Regions from separate parts of the Homo sapiens genome. Here region 1 is linked to region 2. A link means that fine-mapping ties the variant in region 2 to the expression of a gene that starts in the linked region. Tissue or cell type: hypothalamus. Region 2 holds a variant in brackets; the other region holds the start of a gene. All regions are shown on one strand. Distances are between the middles of the regions.

Region 1 (8,103 bases), 280 kb before region 2:
CTGAGGCAGAGGTTGTTAACTTCAGGAAAAGCAGCAGGAGCAAGGCTAGGACAAGAGACCATGGTGCCTGAAACAACTTCTCCTCCTTCTTCTTGCCTCAACACCCTGATAGTGCAAGGGCAGAGACCAAAGGTGGCGATGCTGAGGCTGCAACATTTAGGGCCCCCTCCTGGTCCATCCAGCACCAGCAGACTGAGCGGGTAGACAATGGCCCTCTCTCACAACCTGCTGGGGCTTTAGGCAGCTCCCCCGACCCCAAACATACCACCTCTGCTGGTGGTTATGTGCTGCCTGGGGCGCCCCGGCTCCTCACCTGCAGGGCACAGAAGCAGCTGTGCAGATTGTCCAGCCGAGGAGCAAAGATGAACTCATCATAGGCACCACCCAAGACCTAGAGAGGTAAGACAGTCAGCCCGACCTTCAACCCTCCACCCCCACTCACCTTTCTTTTGCTCCCAAGGGTCTCCTTGGTTTCTTGCGCAACCTCTCCCTGACCCCTGGCTTAGGGCACTATTTTGTTTTTTCTTTTTTTTGAGATGAAGGTTCGCTCTTGTCGCCCAGTCTGAAGTGCAATGGCTCGATCTCGGCTCACTGCAACTTCCGCCTCCCGGGTTCAAAGGATTCTCGTGCCTCAGCCTCCTGAGTAGCTGGGATTACAGGCATGCACCACCAGGCCCAGCTAATTTTTGTATTTTTATTAGAGACAGGGTTTCACCATGGTGGTCAGGCTAGTCTCGAACTCCTGACCTCATGTGATTCCCCCCGCCTCAGCCTCCCAAAGTGCTGGGATTCCTTGCTAGGCAGGACCAAGCAGAGATTGGAGAAGGGGGCTGGGTTGGTGCTGAGGAACAAAAGGGTGGAGGCCAATAGCTCTTGACCTCTTCCTGTGGGTCAAGAAAAGGAAGGGCTGAATTGTCATCAAAAAGGCCAAAGAAGTAAACAGAGGAAACCAGCCAAAAAACAGAAACTTAGTACGTGTTCAAGCAGGACACAGCATCCAAAGATTTAGCAATCTCTGACCATCAGCAACCGGGAGACAGAGAACAGATGGCCACATCCAGGCCTCTTTCCCTAAGCAGTTCAGTGTCAGTGTGGGTCAAAGCAGACAGGGCCCACCTGTAGAAGAAACTCTTTGGGAATCTGTAAAAAGGGCCAATTCCCAGATAGTCCTAGTGGGCAGGTCTGGGGTAGGGAACTTGTCTTTTTGAGAACCACCGCCCTAGAAGCAGTGGGGGATGTGTCTACTGGGAAAAACGGGGATGAGAGTTACTGAGGGCTTGGTGGAGGTGATGGGTGCTTCAGCAGGACGGGCTAGGGGTGGCCAGGATCCTGGAGGCCCTTCACCCACAGGTTCCTACAGCCAGTCCTCACCGCAGGCTGGGTGTCTGCAAGGCAGAGCTCCATCTCCACTATGTCCTTGGGGCTCAGCCCCAGATGGGCACAGAGCAGGGACATGAGGACCGAATGGTGCCGCTCATCCTGAAGAGCAGAAAGATGCTGGGAAGAGTCCATTCCTCCTCTCCTCCCCACTTCTCAGGGGACTCTGCCGCCCTCCCCATGATCAGGAGACTCTCTTACCACAGCATTGAGAGGCCCTGGCTCAGGAGTCCCCTTCTCCAGCTCCTCCTGGATGGCTGTGGCAAGAATGGGGACTCTGTGGGGAGACGTGGGTTGTGGGGGGATTGCGAGGAGGGCACAGCTGAGTGCGGCATCCATAAGTTCAGGTGCCTCCTGATGGGCAACTGCCTCTGCCCTTCAATTCCCAGCCCACTCCCCAAATCACAAGGCTGTGAGGACCCTTAGAAATTAACTGGGTCCCAAGAGTAAAATGTGACCTAATGGCTACCATTAGGTAATAATCACCTGGTACCATTCTCCATCCCTCCCAGCCACCGCAGCCCTGCCCCAGTCTCACAGATGCATCTCTGTGTTGGGCCCAAAGTTCTCGTTGATATTTCGCTGCAGATGGATGGCCAGGTGTGGGATGCGAAGAATGGGCCGCTCCACGTGCACCAGCTGCTGCTCCAGCCGACCTGAGGTAGGGCACTGCAGCCAGCCAGGCCAGGTCAGCCCAGGGTGCCTCCTACCCCAGTGGTCAGTCTTTACTTCACTCAGACTAAGCAGGGTGGTCCTCTGACCAGACTGCCCCCACCCCTCTTCCCCACGGGTACCCTGAGGAGTGTGGCAGTCAGTCTTCTGAGGAGGCTCCGCCATCCCCAACCTCGGTTCCCACCTTGACAATGACGCGTCCAGCCAGAGTCAGGTCACGGTCAAACCAGGTGCTCCAGATCCCACCACCATAGGTCTCCACACCGACTTGCTGGAAGCCCACCTGGCTGCGGCGAGACCGACGTTTCACCTGAGTGTAAAGATGGAGAAGTCAGAGAAGGCTTCATGACGATATGTGGAGATGAGACTTTGGCTACTCATAAGTAACAGACAGCGAATATTAGTGTCACATGAAAGGCTCAAGGTGTGAAGGAAGGGGCCAACAAGTTTACCTTCTCCCTTACTCCAGGGGATAGAGGCCCCAGTTTGTACCTCCTAGTTCTCTTTTGCCCTGTACTCCCTCTGACATCTCCTCCCACCCCAACACCGTCCGAGTTCCTTACCCGGAGGCAGGGGCTGTCCGTGTGGGCCCCGATGAGGCTGAAGCCATTGCCAGGAACGTACTGGCCCCCTACAGCAAAAGCTATGATGGTGGAGGAGTTCCTGGTCATGAAGTACTGAGGAGAAGGGGAGGAAAGACAGGGGTGTGAGTTGCATTACTCAGCTGGCACACAGGGCTTGGAGACCAGCCTAGGGACCTGCCTTTCCACCCCCACCCCACCCCCAGTACCTTGCTCTCGGGCTTAATATTCCATTTCTCAGTCTCCTTGAGTTCACTGAAGCCAGCCTGGAGAAGGCGGTTGCGGCATTCAGCCACAGCTGTGGGAAAAGCACCCTCTCACAGCGATGGAAGCTGGTGAAGGGCGCATCAGCCTCCACCCTCCTCCCTTGCCCTGGCCACCGCTTACCATGGAAAGGAGAGGGACTCCGGTTCACGAACTTGAGGAGTTCCTTAGCCGCAGTCTGCACCGCCTCTTTGCGGGCCTTACCGTTCATGGCCACCTAGGGGAGGGGGATGCTCAGACTTTTACAAGGTCTGGGACCCCTGACCTTTCACCCAGGTTCCGAGGATTCTCCCATCCCCACCCCCAGAAGTGACCACTCTAAGGCACAGACCTCTGCTTCCGCCCGTCCCCACCGAGAGACCCAAACCCAGGGCTGAAACTCCGTTGAAAGCTTCAGCCCGCCGGCCCAGGATCATGAGCCAGGCCCGCCCCTTAATCCGAACTTTAGCCCGACTCCCTAAGTCCCGCCCCCATGTCCCTGCCCAGCTAGGAAATCCTGTTCTGCTCCCAAACTCCGGGATCCCAAGCGGGCCCCATACTCTGAGGCGGCCTGCATCACGTGCGCGTACCCAGCCCGGAGCCAAAGCCCTGTACCCCAAGGAGCACCCTGACTCCTCTCTCGCACCCACCTAGTCTCTCGCAGGACTCCCCCTTCCAGTCCCGGGAAAGTCGTCAGGTCACCCTCCGCGGGGCTTTCGGTTTCGCTTTGGGTCAGGCGGCCCCACTGCAGCACCGCGCTAAGCTTGGGCCCCGGAGGGCGCCGGACCCGGTCTGGGATCGAAATTCAAGTGGGGCCGTCGGGAGCCACTTACCTGCATGGCCCCGCGCGTGGGGCTGTGTCCGCTCATCTGGCCTCCGGGCTCGGCCCGCCCCCACCGCGCCGCCTGCCCCGCCCCTCACTAGCTTTGCAGGTCCCCCGCGTGCCCCTTCAGGCCGCGCCGCACTCGTAGGCCTTCATCACGCTTCCCCGGCCGCGCCGCCCCGCCCCATGTTTGGCCTCCCCGCCCACCTCTCCCCGCCCCTCGGCATCCGCCCCGCCCACCTCGGTCAGCCCCGCCCCTCGGCGGGCTTACCCTGTCCGCTCCGCCCCTCGCTGGGCACCACCACCCGCCTTGCCCCGCCCTTGCCCCGCCCCTAGCTTGGCCGCACCGCCCGCCCCGCCCCGCCCCTCGCCAGGAAGCACCGCCCGCCCTGCCCCTCGCAGGGCTGCACCGCCCGCCCCGCCCCTCGTCAAGCTTCCTCGTCCGCCCCGCCTCTCGCCAGGCTGCACCGCCCTCCCCGCTTTGTCCCGCCCCTCACCAGGTTTCCCCCATCCGCTCCGGCCCTCGCTGTACCCCACTACTCGCCCTGCCCCCGCCCTTGCTCCGCCCCGCCCTTCGTCAGGCCTCCTTGCGCTCCCCGCCCCTTGTCAGGCCGTGCCGCCCACCCCGCCCCGCTCCTCGCCAGGCTGCTCCACCCGCCCCGCCGCTCGTCACGCTTCCTCGTCCGCCCCGCCCCTCGCTAGGCTGCACCGCCCGCCCCGCTTCCGCCCCATCCCTCTCCAGGCCGCGCCTCCGCCTCCGGCCCGCCCTCGTCTCCGCCCCTGCGGGGGCTGCTCGTTAGGCCCCGCCCTGCACCCCCGTCACCCACGCCGCGCGACCCGCAGCCGCCGCCAGGGCCCTCTGCTGCCGCGGAGGTGCTAGGACAGCCGCGGACGGCCCGCCTCCCCGTGCCCCGGGCCTCGAGGCCAATAAAAAGCTCGCCCCTCCAGCTCACCGGGTCCGACGGGTACGGTACAAAGTGCTGTCTCTCGCCACAGCCACCTTTGTGACAATAAAAGCAATAAGGCTAATGTCCATGGGGCGCTCACGGTGAGCTTTAGCTTTATGATAAAGATTGGCCTGTTACCTCGTTTAATCTTCACAACTGCCCCATCAACTATGTACTCTTACTGTCCCCAGTTTATGCATGAACAGAGAAAGCTGAGATACGGAGACTAGTGATCCGTCGAGGTAATAAACGGCACAGGTGGGGTTTGAACTCCATCAGTTTGATTGCAGAGGCCTGGAACAACCCTACAGCCTTCTCTCAGATCTTTTCTGGACCTTTTTCTATGCGCTTTGGTAAGTGTTATGTTACACGGGAGGTCCACAAGGGACACAGAAGTTGACTTGCCCAAGATCACATAGCTGTTTGGGTGGATCTGGGATTTGACTCTGATATCTGTGCCCTTTCCATTTGTTAAAAACAACAGAAAAACAAATTCCACATTATTGGCAGTTCCAGTATTCCCATGTCAGGAGTAGTGAGTAGCACGTTTAAACCCCATGCACCTTCCTAGCTGCAGGAACTGATCAGGACTCTTGGTGGCCTCTAGATCCAAAACAGGGCCCAGCTACCAGGGGTTCAAACAAAATTCCAGAGATCACAGGTTTATGGAGCAACCTGCCGTTTATATACCTGGGGTGGGGAGTGACAGGGTGGGATGGGGAGAGGCTGGAAAGGTCCTGCAGCCCTCACTTCAAACTAGTAGATATGGCAGGGGAGTTTTCAAGAATTCACCCACTAGGTGCTGGCTTAAATTCATGGCATTCCCTAACCGTTTGTTGAAATACCATTATGGGCCTGGCGCAGTGGCTCACGCCTGTAATCCCAGCACTTTGGGAGGCCGAGGCGGGTAGATCACTTGAGGTCAGGAGTTCGTGACCAGTCTGACCAACATGGTGAAACCCCGTCTCTACAAAAAATACAAAAATTAGCCGGGTGTAGTGGCACGTGCCTGTAATCCCAGCAGCTACTTGGGAGGCTGAGGCAAGAGAATCGCTTGAACCCGGGAGGTGGAGGTTGCAGTGAGCTGAGATCGTGCCACTGCACTCCAGCCTGGGCGACAGAGTGAGATTCTGTCTCAATAAATAAATAAATAAAATTATGTATAAAGCTCAATGCTGAGCAGGACATGGAGAGAGCATTCTTGTCCTCTACCTCCTGGGGAGGGGACACATTCAAGGAGGACAGTGAAAGGGCCGAAACAAGGCTACAATGTATAAGGGAAGGAGACAACCTGAATAAGGAACCACCTTTAATGTTCTTTCTGATCACAGAAAAGAGTACATGCTTGAGTAAGAGATTCAAACATCACCAAAATGCATAACTTAGAAAGTGAGCCGGGAGTGGTGGCTCACGCCTGTCATCCCAGCATTTTGGGAGGGAAATACAGAAGTGTTCCTATTCAAATCAGAAGTGAGACATTGATGAGCTATTACTGCTGCTAGACAATGTGGAGCTGTAGTCAGAGCCAGTACCACAAAACAAAATTAACAATTCTATATGTGCAAAAGTAAAATTGGTCATTATTTATAGATTATATGATTATCTAGAATCCCCAAGAAAATAAACGATCAAGCTATTATTAGAACTGGTAGGAAGGGTAGCCTAATTTAAAAAACACTGACTTTCTTGTACAATAATCACCTAGAAAATATAAAAGTAAAAAGGTTCTTATTGACCATTTTTGGTTTGGGTAAAAAAGAAAAAAGTAAAAGGGCTATATTTACAAGAGCAAGAAATATTGTTAAATTTCTAGTCATGAACATATGAGACACCTAATCTCACTTTAAACAGGAAAATGCAAGTTAAAAATGAGATAACAGTTGGGCGTGGTGGCTCATGCCTGTAATCCCAGCACTTTGGGAGGCAAAGGCGGGTGGATCACGAGGTCAGGAGTTTGAGACTAGCCTGGCTAAAAATACAAAAAATTAGCTGGACATGGTGGTGTGCACTTGTAATCCCAGCTACTCAGGAGACTGAGGCAGGAGAACTGCTTGAACCCGGGAGGCAGAGGTTGCAGTGAGCCGAGATCGTGCCATTGCACTCCAGCCCAGGCAACAAGTGCGAGACTCCAACTCAAAAAAAAAATTAATAAATAATAAAAATGAGATACTTTTTCTTTTTATTGAGCAGATTAACAAAAATGGAAAAGATGGGTAATATCAAGTGTTGGAGAAGGCTTGGGGTAATGCAAGCATTTTCTGGAGGCTAAAGCAACTCCATCTGGGAAGCTAATCTGCCATGTTGACTTTTCAACAACCTGTTCCAGGAATGACTCTAAGTTTTCTACTTTACCTACTATTACCATAAATCCTGCGCTTAGACAGATTCACATAGCATTCATGACTTTGCCTGAGGGGTCAACTTCAATTGTTTGACACATTGTTTCCCTATGGTATGTAAGCCCTGGGTTTGCAGGGTAATCCACCATTTCATCTCTGAAACTATGGCCTCTATTCATAAGTCCCTATGAAATGTTTCTTTCTGAGAGACTGTATATGTCAGCCTCTTTCGTCGGCTTTTCAGCTTCCCTGAACTTTGGGGGTATGTTTGCACAGACCTTTATACCCAAATTTCTGTGGTGTAAATGTTCCCCGTGGCCGATTTCAAGCTGTCGAGATGATGTCACTGAAGGGAGTTGGGAAGAGCTGTGCGGAAGCATGCCATTATGTAGATTTCCACCATGCAGACACAATGGATAGAAATAACATCAACAGCATAGATTTAAGAAGGCAGTAAAATGTTTGGAAAGGTGATGGATTTTTGGTTTTCATTATCTGTAATATAATTTATTTAATTGTAAGTGTATATAATTTAGTTTTTTTTAATGATTGCTGTGTTTAACAACAAGCTCACCAAATTCCTGGAAATTTGACAATCAGTTCTCATGAGCTTGTCCAAGTTGGCCCCAGCACACTATTCCACCCGTACTGTACATCTTTGCTACTAAATGTGTGATCTGTTGACCAGCAATGTCAATAACATCTGGGAGCTTTTTAGAAATGCAGAACCTCAGGGCTTACCCTAGAGTTATAGAATCAGCATCTGCATGTTAACAAGATTCCTAGATGATTTGAATGCTTGAGACACAGTATTTTAAAGTGCTGTGTAGCAGTTCATAAAAAAAAAAAAAAGGTCAGTCTTTAGGAATTGTTACAGAAAAGAATTCCAAATATACTGTTGAGTGAAAAAAAAAAGCAATTTCTAGAATGTAAGGTGAGGGCCTTTAGATAAAACTCACACAATGAGCTAAATTTATATTTCTAGATGTTATATAAATACATATGTAAATGGATAGAAACAGGTTTGGAAGGATAATGGTCACCTCTGGGTAAGGGAATGGTGATGGATTTGGAGTTCAGGTGGCAAAGTCAAGGGATGACTAGGGATCAAGAAAGAAAAA
Region 2 (8,103 bases):
GAAGTTTGGGAAGCAGTAGACTCCCAATCTCACCTGAAGGAACTTCCAGCGCAAACATCTTTCTTGTTTTTTTTTTGAGACGGAGTCTTGCTCTGTTGCCTGGGCTGGAGTGCAGTGTCGCAATCTCGGCTCACTGCAACCTGCGCCTCCCAGGTTCAAGCTATTCTCCTGCCTCAGCATCCTAAGTAGCTGGGACTACAGGCGCCCGCCACCACGCCCAGCTAATTTTTTGTATTTTTAGTAGAGATGGGGTTTCACCGTGTTAGCCAGGATGGTCTCGATCTCCTGACCTTGTGATCCACCCGCCTCGGCCTTCCAAAGCACTGGGGTTACAGGCGTGAGCTTCCGCGCCCGGCAAAGCATTTTTCGAATGAGGATACCTCTGGGCATTTTTATATTCAGGAAGAAGCTTCAGCAGGAAGCGTCCTCTGGCTTCCGCCCGGCTTCCTTTTGCTCTTCCATCTGTGCACGGCCACAGAGACGAGTCACTGGGTCAGTTGAGTGACTGCCCCATCCCATGGCCGTACGATCCCTGCCCCGTGATACTGCAACCCTCTGACTCTGGGATGGGGGTTCCCAGAAGAAACAGGCAGACTCTTAATCAGTGCATGGCATCTGGGGAGTCACACAACATCAGAGCAATTTAGATCATTTACACCAGTTGTACGCAACGGATGCAGTTTGGTTAAGCCTGAACCCACGACTGGCTTCCCTTCCCAGGCATCAGATACCTTCATGCCTCCTGAATGAGAAAGAAAGCAGGTCTGCCAAGTCTCAGGAAGGCAAAGCGAATGTCAGTAGCTATTTCTATGGAGGGAGGAGACCGGGTGAAATTAGATGAGAGCATAAAGACCGGAGAATGTGTTTTTAAGCACCATGGGCAAATAAATTGAAAAAGATGGAAATGTTAAATTCTGAAAATTTTAATCTGAGTAATTACAGAGAAACAGGTTTGGGGCCCATGTAAGGAAGATTTGGGTAGCATAAGCCAGAAATTAATGGATCATATTGGTGGTTGAAATATAGGCCTTTAATGAGACCCCCAACTGGAGAATCTGTTTCTACAGTTCGGTATCTTGGACCTCCAATTTCAGCTCTCCAAGGGAAACCATCCTGGAGCGGTTTGTGCCAGCTCTGAACAAGTCCTCTCTGAGGACAGGTAGGCTGCGGTCTCCACCAGAATGTCCTTCTTTCCTCCAATGTCCCTATTTGCACCTTTGGTATTCCTGTTACATTGGTCCCTGGGTGAGAAACCTTTGGGGCCACAGTTCAATTTCCCTTCTCTTTCTTTTCTCCACCCAGACAGTTATCAAGTCCTCAAATATTTTCTGTGCGATTACTAATATTACTAAATATTTTCTGTTCTCCATTCACACTGCCCTCTTCTTCAACCAACCCTTCATTCAGTAAATATCAAGTGCCTGATATGTGTTGGAACTCGACTTGTGTCACCTCATGCCTGAATCCTTGATCTGGAGTCCCCATAGAGTTAAGCATAATCAGTGCTCAGGAAGTATTTACTGAATTGATATAAGGGTGTCTCAGTCTTCTCTGTCCTGCTGCAGATGTTTTTTGTTGGCTTAGTGGGGAGATCAAAGCTCTCATGAAACCCTAGTCTAGCGGGAATCCCTAGAACTTCCCTGAAATTGACATCCTCACGGGCCTCAGGCCTGGGGATCCACCCCTAGCCCTTCCCTGTCTTCCCAAAACATCCTAAACTGGGAGTATGAGAGGAGGGCTGGACAGCTGTGGACTTTAATTCATTGAGTGCCCAGATGGTCAAATAAATGAAGGTATGAGTCTGCAAGCAGCTGAGGAGTGGAGTTATCGGTTGCTCACCCAAGATGCTTTGTCTTACCTCTTTGATTTCCAAGCTAATCTATCCCCTGCTTTTTTTCTTTAATCAGTTGACTGTTCAGAGATTCTTTTTGCATTGGGAGGATCTAAGTACATTTATTACTAAAGGTAATTAACAAATCATATGGAAATATTTATGTATTCAAATTCAATCCCTGTGTGAAGAAATACCTTGATGTAAACAGGGTGCTTTATTCTAGATAGACATATTTGTTCCTTGTTCATTGACTACATAATCAGACAATAATGCTGTGGGTGCACATTTGAGTTAGGGGGAAGAAGCCTCTTAACTTTCCATGGTACAATTCTCAGTAGAATCCCCTCCTGGTAAATATTTTTATTCTGGAATAATATGCCATAGTGTTTATAGAAAGATTTCTTATTCAACAGTAAAATGGTTGTATTATTTTGATTGCATTCTTAGTCCTTGGTAATTGTCTCATTTTTCTTTCATAAAAGGAACTCAGACACCTAACACAATTGTACTTCAACACCAATTCAGCTCATTATGAAGAATTCTGCCGATAGAATTCTGTGAGTTGTGAATATCTTCTTTGCCCACATTTAGTTTTCTCAAATCGTCTGTAATTCATGGGTAGCACAGATGTTTCCAGCTGTTGGAAAATGAAGCTTGAAGTTCATGCCGATAAGGAGAAAAATATCTAATTCAAATTCCAAGAATTGTTTGACCTAAATCAATTTCAACTTGAGAAAACGGGGTCAACTCTCTGTACCCCACAAGAATCACCCTGGTGATTAAAAAGTAAATCTTGAAGAATTAAATTATGTTGCTGTTCAGCTTTCATATGCACACTTAGGAAAAAAAACAGAGCATCAAAGGCTGTTGGAATAACTCAATTTAGTGATGATGGCAGAGCGTTGCTGAAAAAGAGCTTTCTAGGCAGCGAGCTTTGCTCGGGGGAACTGCTGCAAACTTCAGTTGGTATCTGAGAGAAAAGGAGAGGTCTTTCAGATGAATAATTTTATGACTTTCAACCACACACATACAGCTTGAATATCAAATTATTTTAAATGAGAACTTCAAAAAGATCCACCTGTCAAATGAATAAAAAGCCCCAAACAGTTGCCTAACAGAACAAAGAGATTTGGATTCAAATGCCAAACAGAGATGGGACGAGGCGAGACTTTATTGTGCCGGCATCCCCAAGACACATGTATGAGTTAGAGTTCACCCTCCGATGGATGTGGGGGTCTCTTCATCCACTTGGGTTGCTATGACAAGATTCTTTGGGATGCGTAATCTATAAACAACAGAAATTTATTTTTCACAGTTCCGGAGGTTGAGAGATCTGAGATCAACAGAAGGGGTGAACAGCTTCCTTATACCTCTTTTATAAGGCCACTAATCCCACCCATGAGAGCTTAATCACCCCCTAAACAGGCCCCATGTCTTAACACATCACATC[G/A]TTGATTAGCTTTCAACCTATGAATTTTGCAAGGACACATTCAGGCTATAGTGGGGGGCATTGAGCCTCAGGATTTCAAAGATCATCAAATCCATCCCTCCTTGTTTCGAGAGTGAAAACACAGAGGCCAGAACACAGGTGTCCTGCCAGCTGCAACCCCACCCCACTCAGTGAGTCTAGACACGTTCCACGTTAGCGTTCTCTTGAGTAGCATGGAGAAAAATTAGTGATTGATAAAGTGCTCTGGTCTGTGGGACTAATGAAAGACAATGATTTATGTGTCACTCTTCCTAGATGATATTTGCATTTTAAAGGAGGGCTTCAATACCTTCGGCTCAAAGGAATGAGCTAAGGCAAGGATTTTCAGGCAACTGAATCAGAATGAGAGATTCCTCTCCTATCTTCCCCTCATATGTTTCATATCAAACAAACGAGTATGCATATATCAAGGTATCTACTGAGTGTTGTGGAGAAAGAACTGCCATGGATTGCAAGATTCTAATTCTTGTCCTGCTCTCATTTAAAACAACTTGAATATGATTCACCCATGTAATCCAAAACCACTTGTACCCCTAATGCTACTGAAATACAATTTTTAAAAAACCAATTTGATATTCAAGCAGGATGTATACACTTGAAAACCTTAAAATTATTCCTTTGAAAAGGTCTGCCACCCAAGGACCCACATGTGACCCGGGTATCTGATGTGGTTTTGCTGTGTCCGCACCCAAATCTCATCTCGAATTGTAATCCCCACTTGTCAGGGGGAGGTACTTGATCAGGGAGGTGATTGGATCATGGGGGCAGATTTTCCCCATGCTGTTCTCGTGATAGTGAGTAAGTTCTTATGAGATTTGATGGTTTAAAAGTGTGGCACTTCCCCGCTTGCTCTGTCTCTCCTGCCGCCTTGTGAAAAAGGTGCCTGCTTCCCCTTTGCCTTCCTCCATGATTGTAAGTTTTCTGGGGCCTCCCTAGCCAGGCGGAACTGTGAGTCAATTAAACCTCTTTTCTTTATAAATTACCCAGTTTCAGGTAGTTTTTTATAGCAGTGTGGGAATGGACTAATACAAAATCCAAGTTGATCTTCAGGAAGCTAGGCACAGGGATATTTGCCCTGGATTTCTTCTCTCTCAGGGAAGTTGTGAGCAAGATATAGGCTCATGAAAGTGCAAATGCTCTGTAAATTGGGATCTGAGATGGGGGTTCTGATTTTCATCAGCTGGGATGGAGTGCTGCTTTTGCCAACAGCAATGTCTCTGCCGCCCAGTGGCCACCTTGGCTGGCTTACTCAGTCTCCAGTCTGCCCCTAAATTTTGGCGGCCTGGAGTGCAACATGACCCCAGGGGAGGAGGGGTGCCTAAGGGATTCATGGTGGCCATGCAGGTCAGTTCCTCCCCACTAGCGCCCAGACCATGGGTCCTCTGGGAAAGCACCTGAAGCCCCCCCACTCTCACTGGCCCAAGAAAAATGACAGGTTTTGTCTTTCTGCCTCTCTTCCATGCTTCTCTTTTATCTGATTCCTCTGATCTCTATTCTCCAGTACTGTATGTCTATTCTCCCATTCTGCCTTATCATTTGCTGGTCTTTAAAAATTTATATAAGGTCCTCATTAGAATTTAAAAATGTTTCTGCTGGGTGTGGTGGCACACACCTGTAATCCCAGCACTTTGGGAGGCAGAGGTGGGTGAATTGCTTGAGCCCAGGAGTTCGAGACCAGCCTGGGCAACATGGCAAAACCAAAAAATACAAAAATTACCTGGGCATGGTGGCATGCACATATAGTATAGTCCTAGCTATGCAGGAGGCTGAGGTGGGAGGATCACTTGAGCCTGGGTAGTAAAGGCTGCAGTGAGCTGAGATCATGCCTCTGCATTCCAGCCTGGGCAATAAAGTAAGACCCTGTCTAGGAGAAAAAAAAAAATTAAACATTTTTTCTTCATGTAGATTCCGTACATTTCTTATTAGGTGTATCTGTATGTAGCCTTTTTGTTTGTTTTTACTTTTTTGAATTGCTACCTTTTTTTTTTGAGACAGTGTCTTGCTTTGTTGCCCAGGCTGGAGTGCAGTGGTGCGATCTTTGCTCACTGCATCCTCCACCTCCTGTGTTCAAGCGATTCTCGTGCCTCAGCTTTTCGAGTAGCTGGGATTACAGGTGTCTGCCACCACGCCCAGCTAATTTTTGTATTTTTAGTAGAGACAGGGTTTTGTCATGTTGGCCAGGCTGGTCTTGAACTCCTGACCTCAGGTGATCCGCCCACCTCAGCCTCCCAAAGTGCTGGGATTACAGGTGTGAGCCACAGCTCCCAGCTGATTGCGGCTTTTTAAATGGGATTTTTTTCTTTCATTTTATTTTCCAATCAGTTGTGTGTATGTAGCAAGCTATTGACTCTCATACATACATTTTTATAGCTAGCCATCTTATCGAATTATCCTATTGATTTTAACAGTTTTGTTTTTGTTTTTGTTTTAACTCTATTCTCTTTGGTTTTCCAGGTGTAGAGTCAAAACTAGTTGCAAATAATTATAATATTATCTTCTCTGTTATGTTTATGACTTTTATTCTCCCATGGCAATGGTGAGTTTCAGTGCTGAACATGGACATTTCCTGTCTTCTTGGGTTTTCCATTTGGTTTCTTCTGAGAATTCTGCTTCTCTGATTTTGTTTATGATTTGGGATATTGAACCTGAGTTCTGACCTGGGCTCTCACTGGTTCTGGGGAGTGAAGGTCAGGGGCTCAGAGGATCCTTAGAATTGGGGGTCCACAAGGCTGGTGGACTGTTTAATCCTCTCCTCCACGTCCACAACTCATATCCCTGTCCCATCGTCCCTCCTCCTTCCTGGTGCTTCCTCCAGCTTGACTTGTAGTCTTGGGAGCTTAGCAAGTTGATTTTAGGGAAAGGAAAACCAAGAAAGGAATGGTTACAAAACTCTAGGATTATTTCAATGGATGGATTTTATAATTAGAGAAATACACTGTGGATGTATTTCTAAGTATATTTTTGCATTAAAAAATACAACTCAAGCACTATTAGGTGCCATGAACAGAAATCAAACTCAAGCCAGCTTACATTTGGAAAAGGCAAATTCATTGACTCCTATCACCAAGCTGCAGGAAGCCTGGGTTGTTGCTTAACTTACTCTCATCCCTGCTTCCTTTGAGGACTGACTTAACTCTCAGGCTGGCCAGTACCCTAAAGTTGGTACCACGGTGTGGGCAGCTCTGGGGCTGCCATCTTAATTCTAAGCACCTGAATTGCTTATCTCATTTAATCCATGACATGAACCTATGAGGTGGGTCTTGTTATCCCCATTTTACAGATGAAGAAATGGAGCCTCAGTGAGGACCCTTCCCAAGTTCACAAAGCTGGTAAAGAACTTTGGGATCTGGAGTCAACTCTGATTGAAGAGCTTGGGCTTTTAGCCCTGTGCATTCTCCTGCCCCTCCTCTTGAGAGCAGAGAGAAAAGAGCTCTTCCCACTCACTCCAGTTGGGCTGGAATGGGCTCAGATTGGCCTGGTCGTTTGCCTATCCCTGGGCCAATTACTGATGTCAAAGGGATCAGTCTCTAGGATTAGCCCAGCCAGGGCTATAGAGAACCAAATGGAAGTAGAGCTCTTTCCCAAATGAAGCGGGGGTGTTGTTCTGGGAAGGCGAAATAATAAATGGCCCCTACAACTCCCAAGCCCAAACCCTCCACTCTAGGTAGACCAGCTATTTCAATGCTCTGGGAACAAGTCAGGCACATTCCTGCCTCCCCATCTTTGTGCCTGTCATTCCTTCTCTCCGAAATGCCCTTTTCTCCTACATCCTGGGTCGAATGTCCCTTCTTTTTGTGTGTCATACCTTTCTTTAGGTAGCATCAAGCTTCCTCCTTTCTCCTGAGTTTTGGGGAGTAGCTCTACAGATTTTTCCCACTATTTGATTGATGAAAAGGTAGTTTTATTTTCCAAAGGTAAAAAAGGAACAGCTTCCTCTACTGACTTTTCTATGATCTTGCTCTCCCCTTCGAACTTTCCAGCTGATGGAACTTTGCTGGGAAAAAAAAGCAGCTCAAGGTGCCTGTGCCAAGATATTAGCATATACTGCCCCAGGCAAAGACACCGCTGGCATGCTCCATCTGTTTTTGCCAAGTTCTGTTATGTAAGTGACAGCTGAGGGTATCTTTTAAGAAGCGTAGTGTTTGTGAATGATGTGTCTTAATAGAGGAACAATGAGACACACTGGCATGCACAGCGTGCTTTGTGGGAGCAGGTTTTTTGCTGGAGGGTAATTTGGAGGGGAAAAGATGTTCAGGAGGAATAGCAGTTAAGGTGGGGTGGTGGGTAATAGTGACAAGAGGGTTCTTTTCATTTGTGAAGGGCTGCCTGTGGGCTGAGCCTCCTCTGGGCATCTCTCTTGGGGCAGGGCAAACACACTCTTGAGAATCAACTGTGAGGAGTTTGCTGGAGTCCCCAGCACCTGCTCTTCTCCCACCCAAGTTAGAGACCAGTCCATGTTTAGCCCCCTGGGGACTCTAGATATTATCTCTAAGCTTGGAAGCAAGGAATTCACTTGGCCAGTGTGGTGGTTGTAAAACATAGCTCCTAGATTCTTTGGCACTTTTCCTATCTGGGATGGAGTCTATGACCTTTCCTCTTGATTCTGCTTTGGCCAATAGAGTATGGTGGAAGGGCTAAGACTGAAAAGGCCATGTGGCTTCCCCTTGGTGCTCTGATAGTGTTTGCTTTCTAGAGACCCCTTCTCAGAAAGCCTTCTCTCTAACTCAACTGCCATGTTGTGAAAAGCCGAATCCACGTGGAGAGGCCATGTATAGGTGTT

What was found. PIP is the estimated chance that this variant, and not a neighbour inherited with it, causes the effect.
Region 1: DNPEP starts here. The variant in region 2 is fine-mapped to the expression of DNPEP in hypothalamus (GTEx, PIP 0.95).

What each region holds. Positions count from the first base shown.
Region 1 is chr2:219,384,053-219,392,155 of GRCh38, forward strand. DNPEP (aspartyl aminopeptidase) reads right to left here and starts at 3,860. Exons shown (of 15, transcript NM_012100.4): 1 at 3,707-3,860; 2 at 3,018-3,111; 3 at 2,840-2,928; 4 at 2,613-2,726; 5 at 2,234-2,359; 6 at 1,916-2,046; 7 at 1,579-1,654; 8 at 1,372-1,479; 9 at 314-391. The coding sequence starts at 3,742. It overlaps DNPEP-AS1 (DNPEP antisense RNA 1), which reads left to right and starts at 4,518. Exons shown (of 4, transcript NR_183823.1): 1 at 4,518-4,744; 2 at 4,835-4,996. RefSeq lists an enhancer at 2,541-3,387 and silencers at 3,652-3,891, 3,912-4,431, 4,512-4,661.
Region 2 is chr2:219,667,976-219,676,078 of GRCh38, forward strand. No RefSeq gene overlaps it. Among named protein-coding and RNA genes, the nearest start is that of SLC4A3, 44 kb to the left of the region's middle. RefSeq lists an enhancer at 4,610-5,110. The variant G/A (reference allele first, on the strand shown) is at 3,285.